Linked DNA regions of Homo sapiens. The protein of the gene in region 3 interacts with the protein of the main gene of each other region in a pairwise test. Each region holds a gene or a part of one and is shown on either strand. Other genes may lie near its edges. The genes, in order: KIF9, RPRD1B, STEEP1 and HAT1.

What was found.
Region 1: the proteins of STEEP1 (region 3) and KIF9 interact in binary tests that used the Homo sapiens proteins (3 or more experiments, as listed by UniProt).
Region 2: the proteins of STEEP1 (region 3) and RPRD1B interact in binary tests that used the Homo sapiens proteins (3 or more experiments, as listed by UniProt).
Region 4: the proteins of STEEP1 (region 3) and HAT1 interact in binary tests that used the Homo sapiens proteins (3 or more experiments, as listed by UniProt).

The regions. Positions count from the first base shown.
Region 1 is NC_000003.12:47,265,640-47,272,962, forward strand, and holds part of KIF9 (kinesin-like protein KIF9), read right to left. Parts: intron 5,823-7,323; coding exon 5,598-5,822; intron 1,625-5,597; coding exon 1,541-1,624; intron 1,430-1,540; coding exon 1,337-1,429; intron 239-1,336; coding exon 91-238; intron 1-90. UniProt on the Homo sapiens protein: Essential for normal male fertility and for progressive motility of spermatozoa.
Region 2 is NC_000020.11:38,029,882-38,037,034, reverse strand, and holds the start of RPRD1B (regulation of nuclear pre-mRNA domain-containing protein 1B), read right to left. Parts: upstream 3,290-7,153; 5' UTR 3,088-3,289; coding exon 2,937-3,087; intron 2,930-2,936; exon of another isoform or gene 1,630-2,929; intron 1-1,629. UniProt on the Homo sapiens protein: Interacts with phosphorylated C-terminal heptapeptide repeat domain (CTD) of the largest RNA polymerase II subunit POLR2A, and participates in dephosphorylation of the CTD by RPAP2. Transcriptional regulator which enhances expression of CCND1.
Region 3 is NC_000023.11:119,555,377-119,562,699, forward strand, and holds part of STEEP1 (STING ER exit protein), read right to left. Parts: intron 5,010-7,323; coding exon 4,892-5,009; intron 1-4,891.
Region 4 is NC_000002.12:171,981,138-171,984,186, reverse strand, and holds the end of HAT1 (histone acetyltransferase type B catalytic subunit), read right to left. Parts: intron 1,003-3,049; coding exon 835-1,002; 3' UTR 501-834; downstream 1-500. UniProt on the Homo sapiens protein: Histone acetyltransferase that plays a role in different biological processes including cell cycle progression, glucose metabolism, histone production or DNA damage repair. Coordinates histone production and acetylation via H4 promoter binding.

The DNA.
Region 1 (7,323 bases), on a different chromosome or scaffold from region 3:
ATTCTATCATCACCAGTGGCAGATGTGCCAAACCTGTCCCTCCCCAAAGACACAGACCCTCCTCCCTGGGCAGCAACTGTACCCCCTCACCTAACGAGTCCTTCAGAGCGTGGGTGAGCTTGCACTGCCGAAAGGGGATGTGGTCCCGCTTCTGGTCCCCAAGGGCAATGATGGCCTGCTCCAGGAATGAGAGCGATTTGTTGATGTAGGTGGCTTCCTTCAGGACTTGGCCCTCAGACTACAAAGCAAAGGTCAGTTCCACTTTGGATGGAATAAAGCAGCTGCCCCACTAAGAATAGCAGTCTTCCTGGTCTGGAGAAATGCTATAAGTCTGTGGTCAGGTCAGCGCCTCCTTCCCAGAACCAGGGTCTTCTTTCAATGTCATGCGATTGTATTCCATCTTGGGCTAATAATGGTAATACCAAAACTCAGAAATATTCATGTGAACACTCATGTGAATACTCATGCGAATGTGAATGCTTACATGAATATTCATATGGACATTCACTCAAAGATTCACACTAATATGAATATGTACTGAAATACTTGTCTAGATATTTGAGCAAAGAATCCTGTGAATATTCACACAAACACTCATGAATGCACATACAAATGCTCATCTGAATACTCTTGTTAATACTTCTGCTAATACACTCATACAAATATTTATTTGAAATACTCATGCAAATACTCATACGAATACTCATATTCATTCACAAAGAAGCCAGGTGTGGTGGCTCACACTTGTAATCCCAGCACTTTGGGAGGCCAAAGCAGGAGGATCGCTTGAGCCCAGGAGTTCAAGTTCAGCCTTGGCAACATAGCGAGACCCCGTCTCTACAAAAAAATTTAAAAATTAGCTGGTCATGGTGGTGCATACCTGTGGTCCCAGATACTTGAGACACTGAAGTGGGATGATCACTTGAGCCTGGGAGGTCAAGGCTGCAGTGAGCTGTATTTGTGCTACTGTACCCCAGCCTGGGAGACACGGCGAGACTGTGTCTCAAAACAACAACAACAAAAACACACACAGAGAAATGCTATACCAGCAAGGAATATTTACTGAGCACTGAGTGCCAGGCACTTTGCTAAGAATGTAGAGGGCACTATCTCATTTAATGTTTACAAAAATCCTCTGAGGTAGGAACCGCCCCCAGGTAATAGCCGTTCCCTTTTTGCAAATCCTGTCCCTCCAGCAAGCCCACATGTCCCACTTCGCCTAGCTCAGGACTGTGTTCACAAATATCCAATGAGTCATGGCCCAGATGTGCAGGCACTGTGCCAGAAAAAGGGCTTGTGGTTTATTGAGTAGCAACCTCCAGCCCCCATCACTTACCCCAGACTTCCCCAGCCTCTCTGAGCCTGCCAGATCCACCAAGTTAATTTTGGAAGTGATGTACTTTTCCTCTGATAAGGTCCGGGAATGGGCCTACAAAACATCCAAGCAGAAGTTAGACTGTCACAGGGAGAAGTTTCTGACTGAGCAGGCCCCGTGGGAATTGACTGCCCCGCCTGGGCTGATCAAAGAGCTTGCACCTACCTCTAAGTAGATGGTGAAAATGCAGTGTGATCTGGAAGAGTTTTTGTTCATAGTGTGGGAGGCTATAATCCTGTTGGTCTCACCCTGAAGAGGAAGGGAATCATAGGCAACATTTCGAAAAACTAAAACGACAAGGCACTTGGGTCATTTTTCAATTATACCAATAGCTACACAAGTGGTCTCATATCACTGCGATCAGCTGGGCCTTCCAGGCAAACCTCTTTTATAAACTAATAGAAAGGGAGTCAAATTGGAGTCCACATCTACACTTTCACCCGCCGCTGGGGAAGTGTGAATTGGTATAGCTTTCTGGAAAGCAAAGTGACAATAAAAATCAAGAGCCTTAAAAATGTTTATGAATATTGAATCAGAATCAACCTGCATGTCCAACAATTTGGGAATGATCTATGTATACAGTGGGATATTGGGCAGCCAGGAAAATGCTGACACATAGTTTTTAATAACAGAGAGAAATGTAGAATCCAAAATCATATTATAGCTGATCTAAGAAATGCAAAAGCATTCATAGAAGAAATAAGCAGAATTCTGCTAATAAGATGTTAATAATAGTTGCTTCTGGGTTGGGGTTTATAGGTTATTTTATCTTTTTTATACAGTTTTGTGGGTTTTTTTTAGTGAGCATGTATTACTATAAAAATAATAATTTATATTTTTATTTATTTTGTGTTCTCCTTTTTTTTTTTTTTTTTGGGAGAGCATCTCAGTCTGTCACCCATACTAGAGTGTGGTGGCACGATCTCGGCTCACTATAACCTCTGCCTCCCGGGCCCAAGCCATCCTCCCACCTCGGCTTCCTGAGTAGCTGGGACTACCAGCGTGCACTACCACACCTGGCTAATTTTTGTATTTTTTGTAGAGACAGGGTTTCACCATGTGCCCAGGCTGGTCTGGAACTTATGAGTTCAAGAGATCTGCCCGCCTCGGCCTGCTACAGTGCTGGGATTACAGGCATGAGCCACTGTGCCTGACCTAGTAATTTGTATTTTTAAAGGGACAGTAGGCCCTTACCTCTAATTTACAGGAGGAGGCCTTATGACCAGAATATACTTAAAAAGGAATTTTTTGTAGAGACAGGGTGGTGGTGTGGTGGAAATGGCTGTTCTTGGAGAAAAAGGTCCTTGAGGGATAGACTGATGTCTCCTTAAATGCTGATGAGAAGTGCTATGAACAAGCCCCAAAGTGAGGGTGGGGGACAGCCCCCCCTGGGGAGAGGAGAGCACCCGCTGAAGAGGGAAGGCCTGAGGCTGTGGAGCAAGCCTAGCAGACTCCTGTGGCCATACCTCTATAGCTTATAGTAGTGAGGCTATAGTCTATGGTCAGGCCTGTTCTACAAATCCAGTGACACTCACCAAGAATATAAGGGGTCACTTCATTTTTCTTCTTCTTTTTTTTTTTTTTTTTGAGATCATTCTCACTCTGTTGCCCAGGCTGAAGTGCAGTGGCGTGATGTTGGCTCACTGCAACTTCTGCCTCCCGGGCTCAAGTGATCCTCCTACCTCAGCCTCCCAGGTAGCTAAAATCACAGGTACAGGCCACCATGCCAGGCTAATTTTTTATATTTTTTTGTAGAGACAGGGTTTCGCCATGTTGCTCAGACTGGTCTTAAACTCCTGAGCTCAAGCAATCCTCCTGCCTTAGCCTCCCAAAGTGCTGGGATTACAGGCATGAGCCACCACAGCAGGTCATTCACCTTTACTCTTCAGTCCCCCTTCTGAAGTACCCTCTTGCCTTGTCTTTCTTTTTTTGTATTTTTAATAGAGAGGGGGTTTCACCATGTTGGCCAGGCTGGTCTCGAACTCCTGACTTCCAGTGATCCGCCTGCCCCGGCCTCCCAAAGCTCTGGGATTACAGGTGTGAGACACCGCGCCTGGCCTTGCCTTGTCTTTCTGGCCCTTTAAAAAAGATCCTGCTATTGACGTTGAGGAAGTAAGTTGCTATGTTGTGAGAAGGCACTATGATCATGCCTGTGAATAGCCATTGCACATGTGCCCATTGCCTGGGCAACACAGCGAGAACTTGCATAAAAAAATAAAGAGTTCCTAGCCTATATGACTTCTAAAAGAATAACATACACTTGACTGATTTCTTTTCTTGTTTTTGAGACAGAGTGTTGCTCTATTACCCAGGTTGGAGTGCAGTGGCATGATCTCAGCTTACTGAAACCTCTACCTGCTGGGCTCAAGTGATTCTCCCACCTCAGCTTCCCAAGCAGCTGGGACCACAGGCATGCGCCCCCATGCCTGGCTAATTTTTGTATTTTTGGTAGAGGTGGGGTTTCACTGTGTTGCCCAGGCTGGTCTTGAACTCATGAGCTCAAGTGATCCACCCGCCTTGGCCTCCCAAAGTGCTGGAATTACAGGCGTGAGCCACTGTGCCAGTGCATTTGACTGGTTTCTAAGAGCCTTTATTTTATTTTTTTGAGATGGAGTCTTACTCTATTGCCCAGGCTGGAGTGCAATGGCTTAATCTCAGCTCACTGCAGCCTCTGCCTCCTGGGTTCAAGCAATTCTCCTGCCTCAGCCCCCCGAGTAGCTGGGATTACAGGTGCCCACCACCACTCCCAGCTAATTTTTTTTTTTTTTTTTTTTTTTTTTGAGATGGAGTCTCCCTCTGTCGCCAGGCTGGAGTGCAGTGGCACAATCTCAGCTCACTGCAACCTCTGCCTCCCGGGTTCAAGCTATTCTCCTGCCTAAGCCTCCTGAGTAGTTGGGAGTTAGCGCCACCACATCCAGCTAATTTTTGTATTTGTAGTAGAGACGGGGTTTCACCATGTTGGCCAGGATGGTCTCAATCTCCTGATCTTGTGATCCGCCTGCCTCCGCCTCCCAAAGTGTTGGGATTACAGGCATGAGCCACCGTGCCCAGCCTAATTTTTGTATTGTTAGTGGAGATGAGGTTTCACCATGTTGGCTAAGCTGGTCTCGAACTCCTGACCTCAGGTGATCCACCCACCTCAGCCTCTCAAAGTGCTGGGATTACAGGCATGAGCCACCGCACCTGGCTCTAAGAGCTTTTGTATAGTAAGGATGCTAATTCTTATTTTTCTCTTTTTCTTTTCTTTTTTTTTTTTGAGAAGGAGTTTTGCTCTTGTTGCCCAGGTTGGAGTGCAATGGTACGATCTTGGCTCACTGCAACCAGTGCCTCCCGGGTTCAAGTGATTCTCCTGCCTCAGCCTCCCTAGTAGCTGGGATTACAGGCACCCGCCACCACACCCAGCTTATTTTTTGTATTTTTAGTAGAGATGGGGTTTCACTATGTTGGCCAGGCTGGTCTCAAACTCCTGATCTCAGGTGATCCACCCACCTCAGCCTCCCAAAGTGCTAGGATTACAGGCATCACCCACTGCACCCGGCCTTATTTTTTTCCATACAAGAGCTCATAATTTAACTGAAAAAAGGGACATAAGAATCATTTCAACTATGTAAAGAAAAAGCTGCACAGGAAAAAAGACTGGAAGGAAATGAGCTAAAATATACATTATTGTTGCCTTATGTAAAAAACAGATTATGCATGAATCATTTTTTCTTTTTATTTACGTAACAGGAAAGGAAGAGGAAATAAAATTCTTTTTTGTTCCTTTTTTTTTTCAGCACTATCTGAACTTGCTAAATGTGCATATATTAATTTCCATTCTGATAATCAAAGTAAGTAAAAAACTAGCTGGACACAGTAGCTTGCCTGTAATCCCTGCACTTTGAGAGGCCGAAGTGGGAAGATCGCTTGAGCCCAAGAGTTCAAGACCAGCCTGGGCAACATGGCCAGACCTTGTCTCTACAAAAAAAAAAAAAAAAAAATTAAGTGGGCATGGTAGCATGCTCCTGTGGTCCCAGCTACTTGGGAGGCTGAGGCAGGAGGATCACTTGAGCCCAGGAGGTCGAGGCTGCAGTGAGCCATGTTCATGCCAGTATACTCCAGACTTGGAGAAAAACCAAGATCCTGTCTCAAAAAAAGAAAAAGAAAAAGAAAAAGAAAAGCTGAGAAGGAGGGTGGCAGGGAGGGAGAGAAGGAAAGGAACCCTCAGGTTTTATTATCTCACCTCAAAAAGGAGGCTGAATGCATCCTCCTCCTGACTTGTGAGGTGAACTGACAAGCCCTTAATGAAGACTCCTTGAGGGTTTTCCACGATGGTCATTGGTGTGACTGAGGGTCCAACATAGGGCAGAGTGGACAGGAGATCAAACAGGCTCTCATTATAGATTTCCAAGTAGGAAACACGCACAGTGATGGCATGTGTGGGGCGTTCTTCGATCATCCTAAAAACCTAGATGACAGATTGTACAGCGGTCACCAAGAGCAGAACCCCAACAGCCAACTAGCATAAGGGGGGCTTCCTAACTCAGAAGGGAACATCAAGATGTATAGAATAATTATTGTCCTAAAGGAATTGGGTGATATTTAGTATCATCTTGTAGTGTTTTGAGGCTTGACATCAGATTGGCTAACACTTAAACCATCTCACGAAGTAGAGGCATAATGAGTGGAAAGGACTCTGGAGTGAGGATTTCTTATTTTAGAGTCTCATCATTTATATGCCTCTTTCAAATCTATTTAATTCCATCCACATATAAATCTCTGTGAATGAGGCAGTGCAGGAGCAATACGTATTTGTGGAAGGCACTACAAAATAAAATTATTTGTCAGCCGGGTGTGGTGGCTCACACCTGTGAGCCCAGCACTTTGGAAGGCGGAGGTGGGCAGATCATGAGGTCAGGAGATCGAGACCATCCTGGCCAACATGGTGAAACCCTGTCTCTACTAAAATTACACAAATTAGCTGGGCGTGGTGGCGTGCGCCTGTAGTCCCAGCGACTCGGGAGGCTGAGGCAGGAGAATCTCTTGAACCCAGGACGCAGAGCTTGCAGTGAGATGAGATCACGCCACTGCACTCCAGCCTGGGTGACAGTGAGACTCCATCTAAAAAATAAATAAATAAATAAATAAATAATTTGTCTATTGGTCACTCAGCTAGTAAGGGTAGAAGTAAAGCCAGAACTCAGCCTTCTCAACTCCTAATTCCCTCCCCAGTGCTTATCAAGGAAGGGATAATTCCTGAGGTCCTGCCTTCCTCTAAGAATTTAGACCGGTTTTGTTCAAAATAGTAGACACAAGTTACAGATGGCTGCTGAGTATCTAAAATGTGGCTAGTACAAATGAACTGAATTTTAAATTTTATGTAATTTTAATTACAGTTAGATTTAAAAACTGATGCAATTCAGTTATTGGTAAACTTTAAGTATGTCTGGAACAACTTGGGTATGTAAATCTACTTTTTCAACATTTTATGAAATCTAAATACAGATCAAGCATTTCTGATAATATTTATGCCTAAACTGAAATGTGCCCCAAGTATAAAATATGTACTGGATTTCAAAGACTTAGTATGAGAAAAAGAATGTAAACTATCTCAATAAGTTTATATTGATTACATGCGGAAATATTTTAAATATATTTAGTTAAATAAAATATATCATTAAAATTAATTTCATCTGTTTATTTTTACTTTTTAAAATGTGGTTACTGGAAAACTCAAATTTGCATGTGACTTACAGTATATTTCTATTAGTGGCACTGGGCTAGATTACTAAAGTCTAAGATGCTGAGATACTGAAGCTTTGACAGTGGGATATTAAGGGTATTGCTCCAAAAACAGGAGCATGGATGGTTCACATACTAGAGGAATGTATACACTTCTTATAGGACAGGGCTGCAAAAAATCCTGTCCTATAACACTTCTTATAGGACAGGGCTGTAAAGCTGCCTCT
Region 2 (7,153 bases), on a different chromosome or scaffold from region 3:
GCACAGAATCCTTTTCTTTCAGTGTGGGGGCATTTTCAGTTCATGAAATAAGCCTGGATATTCGGAAGCTAGGTATTGATGCTTGGAAGAGCATCTTTTTTTAACTCTGCACTGTCCAGTAAGTTAGCCACTAGCCACGTGTGGCTATTGGAACACCTGAATTGCAGCTGGTAAAAACTGGAAACTAAATTTTCAATTCTATCTACTTAAAACTTTAGTTCCTTAGTCACACATTTTAAGTGCTCCATAGCCACATATACCAAGCGGCTACCTGTTGGATGGCACAGATAGAAAACATTGCTATTATCACAGAAAATTGTATTAGATAGCGCTGTTTATATCCTTTATGCTGCTATCATAGAAAGTTGTATTGGATAGCGCTGTTTAGATCCTTTACTCAACCACGAAAATTCTATCAGAGACCATGATTTAATTCCTATTTTTAAACTATATAACAGGCACCACGCGATATCCTGTGGTGTTGCAAATAAACAAGAAGGTCTAGTTCCTCTCTCAAAACATAATCTAATGACAAAGATGTAACCAGTTCAAATGAACAGCTAGTAGGAACAAATTAAATGCTAAACTGGTATGATGGGGTGGGAGGCACTCATTAATTCTAATAAATGAAAGCACCACAGTTTGATTGCAGTCAGGTGACCACCTTCACTTATTAAATGCATTGAGGCACTGAGTACATGAAAAAGAACACATTTTGGCATCAGGCAGCCCTGGGCTCATGTCCTAGCTGTATGTCTGTGGACAAGGCACTTAATCCCTCTATACCTTTATCATCTCATCTATAAAATGAGGATAATAATGCTAGCCTACTTGCAACATAAGGCTTTACCACGTAAGATTAGGGATAACGGAGCTTCATACACAAATGTACTCTCTAATTTGCTTTTTTTCAGTAACTCAACTAGGGTGAGGCAAGGAATCAAGAAAGTGTCACAAAAGAAGTGACACTTGGCCAGGCGTGGTGGCTCACACCTGTAATACCAGCACTTTGGGAGGCCGAGGCGGGGGCATCACAAGGTCAGGAGATCAAGACCATCCTGGCTAACACAGTGAAACCCCATCTCTACTAAAAATACAAAAAATTAGCTGGGTGTGGTGGCGGGCCCCTGTAGTTCCAGCTACTCGGGAGGCTGAGGCAGGAGAATGGCATGAACCCGGGAGGTGGAGCTTGCAGTGAGCTGAGATCGCACCACTGCACTTCAGCCTGGGTGACAGAGCGAGACCCCCATCTCAAAAAAAAAAAAACAAAAAAAATGACACCTGAGATGGACTTTAACTGCCTCTTGAGGTCCCACCCAATAGAATTCTGTACAGTGGCAATTCACATTTCAGCACACTCTTCAAATAATTTCTGAATGGCACAGTGGGGTACATGAAGAAGGCCCCATAAACTCCAGGCTCTACCTCTTCCCGGAACTGCCCGAAGGGCTGAGGGGATCCCTATCTCAGTACAGTACGCGATATTTGGGGGCAGTCCCTGCTAAAGGGCTAGAACTGGGTCTCCTGAAAAAAATCATGAAGATTTTGGTGTTTGCCAGCCTGTTGTAGTCTGAGCCTGTTCAGTTCGAAAGCCTTGAAAATACCACTTAGCCACTTCAGTTTCCTCACCTGTAGAGCAGGACATCTGTGGTGTCCCCAACTCACAGATAGTATAGAACACTTGTAAAGCCACTTCGCTATAAAGGCCTACCACATATAGGGTGTCTGGAGCAGCTCTGAGCTTCATTTCTTCAGTCTTCCATTATGAAACTCATCCGGGAGTGTAGGTGTCCATCTTTCCCCACCAGACTGTAAGCAACTTGAAGGTAAAGACCATGCCTCACAGTGAGTAATCAAAAGTCTCATCTCACCATAATCTGCTGAATGCCTACACTGTGCCTCACCCCATGCTAAATGTTCATTTGGATTATCCCGTTTACTCCTCACCACGAGATGAGTCTCAGTTTTTCCTCTTCTGCAAAGTTCCTACTTCATAGGGCTCCGAGAATTTTTTTTAATGGCAATGTATGTAAAGATATCAGTACTGCACTTCGCATGTAATAAAGACATAGTAAATTTCAGTTATCCATTCTGTAGATAAGAAAATTAAGGCACAGACAGGTTAAGTTGCTGGGGTCAGTAAGGCGGCAAAGTCAGGCTTAAATTCTAGGCAGTTGGCAGAGGCAACATGCTGCAAGTGTCCAAGCCAGTGCCTGGCACATAACAGAATGAGTTCAATGAATTGTCTGTCAGAACCTGAGCAGGGCCTGAAATCAATGACAACTGCATGAGAGAGGAGAGGAGAGGAGAGGTAAGGTCTGGGTGGCCCCTTAACCTAAGATGGGAGAGACTACCTACTTCACAGGGCTGTTCTAAGGACTGAGTGCGAGGATACACACAAAGGTCTTAGTATAGTGACTGGTATGAAGTAAAGGCTTTGTAAGGGGTAGCTATCCTTGCCTCCCTCTTACAGATGAGAAAACGGAGACACAGGGAGATGAAGAAACTCTCCCAGTATTATTCAGCTGGCAAATAGCTGAGCCAGGACTCGATCTGCAGAGTCTGACTCCGGAGCCCACTGGCTTTTACTCCAAATACCCAGCACTGGGCCCGACATGCTAGGGCCAGTACGGCAGTGAATGCAGCCGAGATAATAACAGCCACAAATGTCAGGGGGAAACTGAAGGGAAAATGGCTTGATGAACTAGAAGTCTGGACACCTGAGTCCCAGTCCGTGGACCCTCAGGCAAGTACCTTAAACCTTCCCGGGCCTCAGTTTCCTTCTTCGAGAAATGGGGCTAACTTTGTCTCCCATCTCAGAAGCTCGATCAGGCCTGGAAAGCAAGGCTCAATGAAGAGGCTTAGAGGGGCCTAGGTTGTATGTGGGCGAGAGGACAATCCGGGGACCGTCCAGGGGGTGGGGATTTGGTGTTTACCTTTGCGGAGCTCGCGGTGCCACACGGAGACGATGGGTCCCGCGTGCTTGCGGTGGTGGATGAGCCAAAGGGACAGGGTCTGCACGCTCTGCTGAGAGTTGCTCAGCTCCGAGAGCTTCTTCTCCAGCGCCGACTCAGAGAAGGAGGACATGGTGGCGGCAGTGAGGCCCGGCAGGGAGCGGCCTGGGCCGCCCAGTGCGGCGGGAAGAGCGACGGCACGAGGCCGGGGCCTCACCTGACAGGCTGCGGGACTTTTTACCGACTGACAGACTGCCAGGGGTGCGAGAAGGGGGAGGGGATGGGTCTCCGCAGTAACAGCCGCCCGCGCCGCCGCCACAAGATGGCCACCCGACCTCTCACCCTGCCGCGAGAGCGAGGTCAAAGGGCAAGGGCCGGAGCAGAGGGGCACCGAGAGGCGTCGGAGCTCTAGAAAACCGTCCCTTTGGAGGCGGCGGCCGCTCTGAACCTCGCGCAGAGCACTTCGAAGGAGACAGAGCGAGGCAAGGAGAGTAGTTCCCCGGGCCCCCGGAAAGAGCTTTGACCGCTCGAGCCTGCACACCGGCGCAGTGGATCTCGCCGGAACCCTTTTTCCCGCTCCCTCGGAACCTTTCTGGCGCGATACGGCGCGCTACTTAGCGCGTCACTTCCGGCGAGGCAGAGGAGGCGGGAGAGTGAGAGAAAGGCTGGAAGACGAGGTAAGGGAAGAGTGGCGGGAACCAGAGGGAGCCCAGCAGCTGGGACCCTGTAGAGGGGTATCCTGAGGGGACATTGAGTCTGAGAGATCATGATCTGGATATGGGAGGGGGATTTCCTTTCTAATCTGGCGGGCCCCAGGCCGCATCTTTCCTCCATATGTGTTCGGCTCTCTGGCTGTCCCCCAAAACACTTAGTTTTGGTTCTTCCAAGCCACCCACGTGCCCTTTTCACGCCTCCACGCCCTGGCGCTCGTTCTCTGTCCGAAAGTGACATCCCCTTTCTCACCTGGTGAGCTCCTACTCAGCCCCCCGGAGCACCCTTTAATGTCCTGTTTTGACCTTTTAGTCTGTAACAGCGCCGTCATGAAACACACATTTGGGCTCTCGGCTCTTAAGTGGGTTCTCACTCAGGGTATTATTACGTGCTGCTTTTGCCGTCTGCGGGTCCAGTTGACTTTTTCGAACTTAAGTGAGGTGTTAACTTTAGGGAAAAGGTGGAGGGAACTAACTTAGCCTTCCCAATGTGTCTGTTGACCTCATGTTGAGACACACTATTTGAGGCCTGGCGCAACGTCTCTTGCTTGTAATCCCAACCCTTTGGGAGGCCGAGGCGAGAGGATAGCTTGAGGACTGGAGTTCAAGACCAGCCTGGGTAACAGCGAAAATTAGCCAGGCATGGTGACGCTCACCTGCAGTTCCAGCTACGCGAGAGGATACCTTGAGCCCAGGAGTTAGAGGTTACAGTGAGCTATGATCGTGCCACTGCACTCCAGCCTGGGCGATGGAGCGAGACTCTTCTCTGAAACAAAACAAAACACTATCTGAGACTCTAAACCTTGACCCTATTTTTTTTTTAAGTTTTAAATCCCAGGTATCAAAGCAGCAGAGAAATTTTGTTTTTCTTACTGCCACGGGGGTGATGGTAGGGAGTTAAGTTATAGACATAAGAGGGTTTTAAAATTTCCTGATCGTGGTATAACTTCCTAGTTGTGGGCAGACTCTAGTTTAGGAGACGTTCTTCTAGTTGATGCCTGCTTTTGCTCTTATTGCACTGTATTGCAGTTCTTTGCTTACATGCTTTTACCCTTCCTCCAGACTGGAATCATAATCATAGCTAACGCAGTGAGAGGTTACTATGTGCTAGACACAATTCCCACACAGTAACTCATTTAATCCTCACAACAAAGCTGTGAGGTATTATATTATCCCCCTTTGGACAGCGTAGGAAACAGGCTCAGAGAGGTTAAGTGACCTACCCAAGATCACATTACTAAGACTTGAGGGAAGGGGCTGCAACTTAGCCATCTTTTTGGCCCCAGTTCCTGATTTATCAAGTGAGTTAGTGTAAAAGAGGTGAGTAACCTAAAATCATACAGTGAGTATCTAGTCATAACTGAGGGCTTTTGTGTCGAAATCTAGATCATCTTTCCATATTAATAACACTGTCATATACTGAGCACTTTTATACCAAGTCACTGTCTATTAAGCACATTACATACTTTTTAAATTTAATTCTTACATCAGTCTTAGGAGTTGAAATTATTACAATCACTATTTGATAGACGAGAAAATGTAAAGCATGGTTAAGTACCCTATGTACTTGGACATAGTTAGGAAATAGCAGAGCCAGGAGTCAAATTAGGGTTATCTTATGTCTGATCCCAAATTCTTGCCTCCTGAACCAATAGTTTATTCATTCATTCGGAAAATAATTTTTCAGCACCTATGTCCAAAGCACTCTTCTAAGCTAACAGACAAAATCCACGTTCTCAGGAACTTACTTTCTACTGAGAAAGATAGAAAAACAAACATGCAAGTTTAGAATAAGTCAGAAAGTGGTAAGTAACTTCAATAAAAATCAAGGAGATAAGGAGGATAAGGAATGTATATGTGTAGGTGGGTAGTCTTTTACTTATGCTTCTCAGAGAAGGCCTCATTGATAAGATGTCATTTGAGAGACAAGCCATATGCCATTGTTCCAGGAAGAGGGAAAACCAAGTTTATACCATTGTTGGCATTTTGGAGCAACAGCAGAGAGGACAATAAAGCTGGAGTGATATGAACTAGAAGGGTGGCTGGAAATTAGTTCAGAAAAGTACGAAGGGACTGCATCACATGGTGACTTGTAGGCAATAGTATAGACTTTAGATGTTACTCTGAATGAAATGAAGTCCACTGGGCAGTTTTGCACAAAGAAGGAGCATTGTGGCTGTTAGGTAGAAAATAAGACAGTAAGAGTGCAAAGGTAGAAGCAGGAAGGACCAGTTTGGCAGCTGTTGTAGTAACCCAGGTGAAAGGATAACTCAAACCAGGGTGGTATCTGTGGAAGTGGTAAGAAAGGGACAGTTCTGGGGATATTTTAGAGGAAGAGGTAACAGGATCCGCTGATAGATTGGATATGGGGTGTGAAAGACATATGAGAGTTGAGATAGCTCCAAGGGTTTTGGCCTAAGCAACTATAAGAATAGCGCTTCCATTTACTGAATTACAGAAAAGAGTGGGTTTGGAGAGTAAGAGCAAGCATTTGTATTTGGACATGTCCATTTGGAAATGCCTATCTGAGTATAGATGTCTAAGGGGCAGTTGGGTTTATGGGTCTGGAATTCAAGGAAGAGCTATCTGGGTTAGAGATAAAAATGTGAGAGTCATAACGGAATAAGGTGTAAAAAGAGACTGAGTCCTAGGATTCTTCAACATATAGAGGTCTGAAAGGTGAGGATGATATGATTATGTGATTTTTCTTCTTAAGCTTGTTAATAGCTTGTTAGTATTAACAACTCTAATTGATTTTCAAATATTGAGCCAGTCTTGCATCTCTGAAATATACCCCACTTTATCATGGTGTGTGTGTGTGTGTGTGTGTGTGTGTGTGTGTTTTACATACTGCTGAATTTCCTAATATTTTCTTTAGGATTTTTGCATCTATACTCATGAGAGAAATTGGTCTATAGATTTTTTTAATTTTTGTATTGCCTTTGGTTTGGTATCAGGATAATACTGGCTTTATAAAATGGATTGGAAAGTGTTTCTTCTTTTTCTAGAAGAGTATGTGCAGAATTGGTGTTAATTCTTCATTAAATGTTTGGCGGAATTCTCCAATGAAACCATCTTGGTTTGGAGATTCCCTCCACTCCCTGCTTCCCTCCCTCCCTCCTTCCTCCTTCCTCCCTCCTCCCTCCCTCCCTTCCTTCCCTTCTTCCTTTTTTTTCTGGAGTTTTTAAGTGACAAATTCAGTTTATTTAAAAGTTATAAAGCTGTTAAAATAATCTCTTTCCTATTGTGGTTGTGTTTTTTGAGGAATTAACCACTTCATCAAAGTTGTCAAATTTATATGGGTAAAGCTATTTGTGGTATTCCCTGTCTTTGTTTTCTGTTGCTTATAACAGAATACCTGAAACTGGGTAATTTATAAAGAAAAAGGATGTATTTCTTACAGTTATGGAGGCTGAGAAATCCAAGGTCACAGGGCCACATCAGGTAAAAAACTTTCTTGCTGGTGGGGACTCTGCAGAGTCCCAAGGC
Region 3 (7,323 bases):
TGAAATCAGATGGGGAGGAAGGAGGAGTCCTTAATGGATTGGGCTAGACTCCTCCCCACTCAGAGCAGCTTTCTGCTTATCAGTCTTATTTATACTTCTGGGTAAGAATTTAATTAAAGAAAGGATTTTTCATCTAAAAATGTTTCAAAGGCATTGCTATAAGTGATGAAGGGTCACTAACAGATTTGAAGCAGGTGACTGACATAATGTGTATTTCAGATAATTCAAGCAGTAGAGGATAGACTGGAGGAGAGCAAAACTAGAGACCAAAAGACCAGGTAAGAGGCCACTTCAGTAGTCTAAGTAAGTGATTTTGGGTACTGAAATAACGGCAGTGCAGCAGGGCTGAACAGGAGGCAGCAGCCACAAAAGAGATTAGAAGGCAGAATCGACAGTACATGGTGAGTGACTAGATGTATGCAGGGGATGATGGTGGGATGGTGGGGACAGATGAGACAAAGAGAGACTGACTCCTAGATTTCTGGCTGGGGCCACTGCATGAATCCTGGTGTCATCATAAGAAGAAGGAAAAGAAGGACTAGCATTTGGCTAATAGTAATAGAGACCTGACTGCAATGGCTTCAACAAAAGAGCTTGTTCTCTCATGTAACATCAGGAGGAAGGCAGTTCTGAGCACTGGTTGAGACCCAAGGATAGCAGGGCAAAGGCTCTGCAATTCTTGTGGCCTCTCCTTCCCAGTTCCAGGCTGGCTGCTAGTGTTCCAATTATCATGTCCATTTCCCAAGAAGCAGGATGGAATAAGGATAAAGGGTAAAAAAGGCTTGAAGTCACCCATCAGCTGACATCTACTTCCATCTCTTTTGCTTGGCCAAAGCTAAGTCATATTCAGAATCTTAGTTGTTGGGGGGAAGGGGACTGGAATATGCACCCTAACTTTACAGACACTCGTGTATAGGAGGGTGTAGCAGAAGAGTGTCAGAGTACGCCTGTAATCCCAGCACTTTGGGAGGCCGAAGTGGGCGGATCACGAGGTCAGGAGATCGAGACCGTCCCGGCTAACACAGTGAAACCCCGTCTCTACTAAAAACACAAAAAATTAGCCGGGCGTGGTTGCAGGCACCTGTAGTCCCAGCTACTCAGGAGGCTGAGGCAGGAGAATGGCCTGAACCCGGGAGGCGGAGCTTGCAGTGAGCTGAGATCACGCCACTGCACTCCAGCCTGGGTGACAGAGCGAGACTCCGTCTCAAAAAAAAAAAAAAAAAGAGTGTCAGAGTGGTGCTGAGCGAATCGATCTGTGGTACTGTCCACAGTAGAGAAATGATAAGTTTGGCCTTCATCATGTTGGATCTGAAAAGTAGGACATCAGGTGAAGAGGTAGAGTAGGCAACTGGCTATACAGTTCTGGGACACAGGAAGGCACAGTAGGCAGATTTAGATTTTATCATCAGCATAAAAGTGTAACTAATGCCATGTAAGGTGACAAGAATGCCCAAGGAAGGCATAAAGAGAGTGGGGACAAAAGCAAGGTCAGAACCGCATGGAATACCAATACTTGAGGGGCAGGCAGAAGAAAAAGAATCCAAAGGATTGAGAAGGCCAAAGAAGGAGAAGGAGGCTCACAAGAGCAGCTTCACGTGTTGAAACCCTGTCTCTACTAAAAATACAAAAATTAGCCAGGCATAGTGGTGCACAACCGTAATCCCAGCTACATGGGAGGCTGAGGCAGGAGGATCACTTGAACCCAGGAGGCAGAGGTTGCAGTGAGCTGAGATCGCATCACTGCACTCCAGCTTGGGTGACAGAGCGAGACTCTATCTCAAAAAAAAAAAAAAAAAAGAAAAGAAAGAAAGAAAACATGTAGCTAGATGTCAGCCTATAGTTTTTTTCTGGTTCAACACTAAAGTTTCATAAGGGCAGGATTCTTTGCTGTTTACTGGTTGTACTGGGTTAGATAGTGACCCTTAAAAATTCACATTCTGGCCGGGCACAGTGGCTCATGCCTGTGATCCCAGCACTTTGGGAGGCCGAGGTGGGAGGATCACTTGAGTCCAAGAGTTTGAGACCAGCCTGGCCAACATGGTGAAACCCCATCTCTACTAAAAACACAAAAACTAGCCAGGCATGGTAGCACACACCATCTCAAAAAAAAAAAAAAAAAGAAAAAAGAAAAAAGAAAAAAAAATCCACATCCATCCAGGAACCTCAGAATGTGACCTTATTTGGAAATAGTGATGTTGCAGACATAATTAGTTAAGTTAAAATGATGTCATACTGGAGGAGGATGGGCCCTTAATCCAATATGATTGGTGCCCTTATAAGAAAAGAACAGGCAAAGGGAGAATGCCATGTGATGATACAAGCACTGACTGGAGTGATGCATTTACAATACAAGCCAAGGAATGCCAAGGATTGCTGGTAAACGCCAAAAACCAGGAATGAGGCAAGGAAGGATTCTCCCCTACAATCTTGAGAGAGAGCATGGACTTACCAATACCTTGATTTCAGACTTCTAGCCTCCACAACTATTAAACAACTTCTCTTGTTTTAGGCCACCCAATTTGTAGTACTTTATTTTTTTTTTATTTTTTGAGACAGTGTCTCACTCTGTCGCCCAGGCTGGAGTACAGTGGCACAATCTCAGCTCACTGCAACCTCTGCCTCCCCATACAAGCAATTCTCCTATCCCAGCCTCCCGAGTAGCTGGGATTACAGGCACACGCGCCACCATGCCCAACTAATTTTTGTATTTTTAGTAGAGATGGGGTTTCACTACGTTGGCCAGCCTGGTCTCGAACTCCTGGTCTCAAGTGATCCACCCACCTCAGCCTCTCAAAGTGTTGGGATTACAGGCGTGAGCCACCACACCCAGGCTGTAGTACTTTACTATGGCAGCTCTAGAAAACTAATACACTGGCGGCCGGGCACGATGGCTCACGTCTGTAATCCCAGCACTTTGGGAGGCCAAGGCAGACAGACCACGAGGTCAGGAGATCGAGGCCATCCTGGCTAACACGGTGAAACCCCGTCTCTACTAAAAATACAAAAAAAAATTAGCCGGGCATGGTGGCAGGCGCCTGTAGTCCCAGCTACTCGGGAGGCTGAGGCAGGAGAACGGCGTGAACCTGGGAGGCAGAGCTTGCAGTGAGCCGAGATCGCGCCACTGTACTCCAGCCTGGGTGACAGAGCGAGACTCCGTCTCCAAAAAAAAGAAAACTAATACACTGGTATATATTCCAGACTTCTAGGATAGTACCTGGAACATAGTAGGAGCTCGGTAAATGAAATATTTGTTGCATGAATGGATGGATTTTTTAATTCCCTAGGATTGACCTTTCCATGACTTCTAGCACCTGCTGCTGACCGTCCCCTAGCCACACCCCCACACACTTCTTGATACTCTCTCCTATTTTCTGCATCACCAGGTTCTTCTGGTTCTGTTCCAATTCTTTTGTCTGCCTTTTAAATATTCAGTCCTATCTGCTTGCTCCACACTCTGTAATTTTATCCCTTCCCAGGTTTCAATTTCCCATATATACCAAACTCCCAAATCTAAAACAGAGCTAACCACATCACACCCCTGCTTAAAAAACAGAGATAGGCCGGGCGCAGTGGCTCACCCCTCTAATCCCAGCACTTTGGGAGGCAGAGGCAGGTGGATCGCCTGAGGCCAGAAGTTCGAGACCAGCCTGGCCAACATAGTGAAATCCCATCTCTACTAAAAATACAAAAAATTAGCCAGGCGTGGTGGCAGGTGCCTGAAATCCCAGCTACTCAGGACGCTGAGGCAGGAGAATCGCTTGAACCTGGGAGGCGGAGGTTGCAGTGAGCCAAGATCACACCATTGCACTCCAGCCTGGGCAACAAGAGCGAAACTCCGTCAAAAAAAAAAAAACGGAGATGGCTCTTCATTGCCTACAGATTAAGGCCAAACTTGTCCACTTCAGCACTTTACTCTGTCCTCACCCTAGTATGCATGATGCCGTTCCTGTAAAGTAACCTGTGCTCCAGTCACAAACGACAATTCAGGTTTCTAAAGCACACCATGTTTGATGCTTTTAATGCTTCCATATTCCTTCCACCTGGAATGCTCTTCATTCCCTTCATCTACTTGGTGAAATCCTAGTTCAGGCTAAACACAAATGCCATCATCTTTTGAAGCCTTTCCTGGCCACCATTCAGGACAAATGACCCACTCCCACCTGTTTTTCCTTTCGTTCAGAAGACCAGTATTTTTTCCTATCACAATAGGAGTCATTCCCTCAAAGTCATGAGCTCTTTAATGGTAAAAATCATACCTTATTCATCTTCACAGATCCAGTACCTAGCTCAGTGCCTGGCACACGGTATGCTCCACAAGATTACAGGTTGAATGAACTCATTCAAACCTGTAAATTGTAAACAAACTACGGCTATCAAATGGCAATGGAGGGGCCGGGCACAGTGGCTTATGCCTGTAATCCCAGCACTTTGGGAGGCCAAGGAGGGAGAATCACTTGAGGCCAGGAGTTCAAGACCAGCCTGGCCGACATGGTGAAACTGCGTCTCTACTAAAAATACAAAAATTAGCTGGGCGTGGTGGCGCACGCCTGTCATCCCAGCTACTGGGGAGGCTGAGGCAAGAGAGTTGCTTGAATCTGGGAGGTGGAGGTTGCGGTAAGCCGAGGTCACACCACTGCACTCCAGCCTGAGCAACAGAGTGAGTGAGACTCCATCTCAATTAAAAAAAAAAAGCAATGGAATCACATGTGAGCACCATTTCAACAAAGCACAATAAAGATATTACTACATTAACAGAAGTTAGAAAACCACCACAAATGTCAAAGTATTGGGACCAACTGACCTGTTCAACAATAGATGTGATATTTATATTATTCAGAAACAGACTCCAACACAATAGGGAAATCCTAAACAGGGAGCATCAACCTCTTACCTCCGCAGATACATAGTCTCCTCATCTTCTGTGTTACAAAACTTATGGGCATGTTTGGCAGCATCAATCACACGGGACCGGTCCCGGGGCCTCATGGGCAATTTCTCTAACTGGCAGTCTGAAGGAATGGAGAGATTTGGTCACTAGAGTCATGGCAAAATATAGCAAATGAGTCACTGCAAAATATCCTGAGAAGTTTTGAGTGGGATCCCTAGCACTAGAATTTTCTACTACAATTACTATGCTTATTGAAACCTATTATTGAATGTTCCAACTAAAAATGACTTGCTATCAGGAGACCTTGGTATTTGGACCCAGCTCTCTTACTACCCTGGTGATCTTTGGCAAATCACTTCCTCCTTTGGAGACTTTTGCCTCATTTGAAAGATGAGTTAGATGATATTATCTCAAAAGTCCTTCCCAATACTGCAATTCAGGTTTCTGTAAGTATTTCTGTGATCATAGTACACTTGGTTTGTGTTATAATGCATTAGAATCAGGAGACACAATCAAGCATACTGGAATGCCTACAAGGAAGCACTGGGAAAAGTGGGTATGTGCTAAGAAAAGGAGAGAGGCTGGGCGTGGTGGCATGCACCTATAGTCCCAGCTACTCAGAAGAATGAGGCAGGGCGATTGCTTGAGACCAGGAGTGCAATGCTGTAGTGTTCCATGATTGTGCCTGTGAATAGCCACTGTACTCCTGCCTGGGCAACACAGCAAGACCCTGTCTCTGTTTTACAAAAAAAAAAAAAAAAGAGGCCAGGCGAGGTGGCTCATGCCTGTAATCCCAGCACTTTGGGAGGTCAAGACGAGCAGATCACCTGAGGTCAGTAGTTCAAGACCAGCCTGGCCCAGCTACTTGGGAGGCTGAGGCGAGAGAATTGCTTGAACCCAGGAGGTGGAGGTTGCAGTGAGCCAATATTGTGCCACTGCACTTCAGCCTGGGCAACAGAGCGAGACTCCGTCAAAAAACAAAAAAAAAGGAAGAGAGAGGGTGATTATATAGTATGCAAATGATCCATCCTAGTTGGAGGAATTTTAATCTGAAAACAATGAAAACACAGTAAACAAATTAGGTACAGTTGTAAAGCAGATTGAAAATTGATATAATGGGCCAGGTGCGGTGGCTCACGCTTGTAATCCAGCACTTTGGGAGGCTGAGGTGGCAGGTGGATCACCTGAGGTCAGAAGTTCGAGACCAGCCTGGCCAACATATAGCGAAACCGTCTCTACTAAAACATACAAACATTAGCAGGGCGTGGTGGCACACACCTGTAGTCCCAGCTAGTTGGGAAGCTGAGGCAGGAGAATCGCTTGAACCCAGGAGGCAGAGGGTTGCAGTGAGCTGGGATCACACCACTGCACTCCTGCCTGAGCAACAGAGGAAAACTCCGTCTCTCAAAAGAAAAAAAAAAGAAAAAAAAAGAAAATTTATATAATGCAAATTAAGCACCTAAAGGATCACAGAGAAAGTCAAGTGGTCAGAGTAATTCAAGATGAATAGAGGAGGTGAAGAGAGGAGTTAGAGAACACTAGGCAGTTTACATGTCAGCTCATTTACTCTTCACAATGAATGGTTAAAGTAAAGATTTGTTGTTCCTATTTTAAAGATGAAGGAACTGAGGTTAAAAAGGGTAAGAGATATACCATGCATCTAATAAGAAGCAGAACAAGAATTCAGACCCAACTCTAAGTGATTCAAAAGCACATGCTGTTTCCACCACACCTCCTTACCAAGAATTAATTTCTTCGATAAATACGTGAGGGCCCTCTAGGTAGCAGGCACTGTTCTAACACTGTGCTAAAGATTCAGCAAACAACAAAGCAGATAAAGTCTCCGCCCTGGCCGGGCACGGTGGCTCACGCCTGTAATCCCAGCACTTTGGGAAGCCAAGACAGGTGGATCACCTGAGGTCAGGAGTTCGAGACCAGCCTGGCCAACATGGTGAAACCCCGTCTCTCCTAAAAATACAAAAATTAACCGGGTGCGGTTGCTCACGTCTGTAATCCCAGCACTTTGGGAGGCCGAGGCTGGCGGATCACCTGAGGTCGGGAGTTTGAGACCGGCCTGACCAACATGGAGAAACCCTGTCTCTACTAAAAAAATACAAAATTAGCTGAGCATGGTGGTGCATGCCTGTAATCCCAGCTACTCGGGAGGCTGAGGCAGGAGAATCGCTTGAACCCAGGAGACGGAGGGTGCAGTGAGCCGAGATGGTGCCACTGCACTCCAGCCTGGGCAACAAGAGCGAAACTCCGTCTCAAAAAAAAAAAAAAAAATTAGCCAGACATGGTGGCAGGTGCCTGTAATCCCAGCTACTCAAGAGAATCACTTGAACCTGGGAGGCAGAGGTTGCAGTGAGGTGAGATCGCACCATTGCACTCCAGCCTGGGCTACAAGAGCTAGACACTGTTTCAAAAAAAAAAAA
Region 4 (3,049 bases), on a different chromosome or scaffold from region 3:
TCAGTGACAGACTGGATAAAGAAAATGTGGTATATACACACCACAGAATACTATGCAGTCATAAAAAAGAACAAGATCATGTATTTTGCCAGGACATGGATGGAGCTGGAAGCCATTGTCCTTAGCAAACTAACACAGGCACAGAAAACCAAATACTGTATGTTCTTACTTAACAAGTGGGAGTAAATGATGAGAACACATGGACACAAAGAAGGGAACAACAGATACTGGGGCCTACTTGAAGGTGGAGGTTGGGAGAATAGCAGAAAAATTAACTATTGGATACTAGGCCTAGTATCTGGGTGTTGAAATAATCTGTACAAGAAACCCCCAAGACACTAGTTTACCTATGTAACAAACCTCCACATGTACCCCTGAATCTAAAAGTTAAAAAAGAAAGAAAAATCATATTGAAAAAATAAAATTACCAGGATAACCTTAAAGAAATGTTTTAAAGGTGTCAGATGTAAAATCTTAGAAGCAAAGTGTGGAAGGAATGATAAGTATTTAAGAATGAGGTTTATTGTAAGTATTTAAGAATCATATCATCACACATTAACATATCACAACTAAGCATTTATTATACTGTTTAAGAAGGGAAGCAATTGCAGTAGTATTTCAGAAGCTTTATCTTTCTTTAAATGCAATATATGCTCATAAACTCTAAACAGTATTTTAAAATATACAATCTCTCCAAAAGAAAATATTCAACTAAAGATAGATAACTTTTAGTATAAGCAAAATGTCACAAGATTTTAAAATTAAAGTCATCAGATTTTTCACAGCACATTGTACAGAAAATTTGCAAGCTTCCTGTACAGAGCAGTATAATCTTTACTCTTGAGCAAGTCGTTCAATAACACGCCGGTAATCTTCCACTAGTTCCTGAAAACTCTCTTCCAGCTGTTCATGTTGCATGCTTATTTCTATTTGGTTCATCTGGTTTGTCAGTTCTTCTGGTCTGAGACATTTTCTCATCTTAGCAAGATCTCTCTGCTTTTTCTAAGTGACAAACAATTATTTGTTAGACGAAGAAAGTAAATATATTTCCTTATAGTCTTACAATTTTAAGTCTCCAATGTTAAAAATAAGAATAGTATGAATACGCCCAAACTTGTCCCACAATGTTTTTTTTTTGTTTTGTTTTGTTTTTTAAGGAAGCTTAAACATAATGTTAACCATGAATTGCAAACCCTCTAAAAAGAGTTAACAAGAAGACCTGGTATTTGTGTCCAATGATGGTAAATACAGACATGTGACTAGCAGCCCCCTCCAAAACTTTAAAGAACTCTGGGCAGTATAGACACTCAAATATTTGCTTAATAGATAGAAGACATTAGCTGAAGAAAGACAACTGAGATTAAGTGCTATTATTCTTCATTTTACTATTCAGTCATTAATTAATTACATTTTAAATTCCACCCAGTGAAGTACTTACGGGCCACATGCTAATTTTAACATAAACTGTTAGAAATGTTTCAGAAAGACAAATGGAAAACTGCTATACTTTAAAAATATATTAAATAGCATTTGAGTCTTTATTAAGTTCCAGACATACATTATCATACTAAACCCTCCTGGTTTGACTTAGGATACCGCTATGCTAAGGAGTTTGCAACAGGTAGCTGATAACAACTTTTATGCAGGACACTGTGTCAGAGATGTTTAGGATGGGACTGGAGGACTGGGCAGCTACTGCAGTAGTTCAAGCCAGAGTTGATGAAAGCCTAGATCAAGTCAGCAGCAGCAGAGATGGAGAGGACAGGGCAGATTTAGGGGAGAAAATACTGGGTGATATGAGGAAGGAAGAATGAAGAATAACTCCAGGATTCCTGGTTGGGTGGCATTATTGCAAATATGAAGCTTTCATGTTTCGGATATACTGTTCTAGAACTCCTGGGCCCAAGTGATCCACCCACCTTGGCCTCCCAAACTGCTGGGATTACAGCCATGAGCCACCACACCCGGCCCAGTTCTGGCCTTTTAGACTGGTGAACTGGCTGGACAGGTAAAGGTACTTAATAATAATATAAAAAAGAATTATCATTCTTTAAGAGTAGAAAATACTTGCACTTATGAACTACAGAGGTTCCCATTATTTGGCATTAGCTGTGTGACTACTATTTGTACTCAGAATTTCCATCTTTCATTTGTTATATTTTATATAAAAGTCACATTAATATCTAAAATATATAATTCAATAAATTATTTTACTTTAGTAAAATCTTAATAACTCTTAAATGTTGCCATCTATACTGCTCTCTGTGCCCAAATTTCATCATTAAGACATTTTCTAGCTAACAAATATTACTTAAAGGTCAAAACCTTTGGAAAATACCATTTTTACCCATTTTCTGATGTTTCTGAATTGATAACATCAAATAATAAAATGCTACTTTGGATAACTTTTGAGGAGACCATTATAATTTATTACAAACCTGCTATATGCAGATGATGGTCTGTAAAATAGAAAAACTATTAAACTGCAATGAAATGACACTATGAGGAACTATTCATACATCTGTGTATGAATTCAAGATAAAATGATTTAGTCATAGGCAAATAATAATTTTATATTCAGAATGTGAACAGAATTACAATGACAAATTAGGAAATACAGTTGCACTGCAAAGTAAAAAGATGCTATGAAGGAAAAGTTGGGATTCAGCAAGTAGTGTCAGCCAATGAACCATCAGCATTCAAGACTGGCTCTATAAAGCAGAATCCATGGCAAATAAAACTTAAATTTTCTTTAAATTTACAAAGGAAAACCAAAACTATGTGTACCTGATACAGTTAGTTAATTTACTTTCTCAAATTGTAATGTAGAATCAACTTGGTCACTTATGTTCCCAGCTATTGTGATGTATAACCCTATAGGTATAGTATATATAAATGCAGCAACAACATTTTATCATTGAGCAACTGTACTCAATAATTATATGTTGAATAAATTAAATATTCTGCCAATCATCCCACTACTCAGCTGCAACTAGATGACAAATTTTCTTCTTTTTTGAGATGGAATTTTGCTCGTCACCCAGGCTGG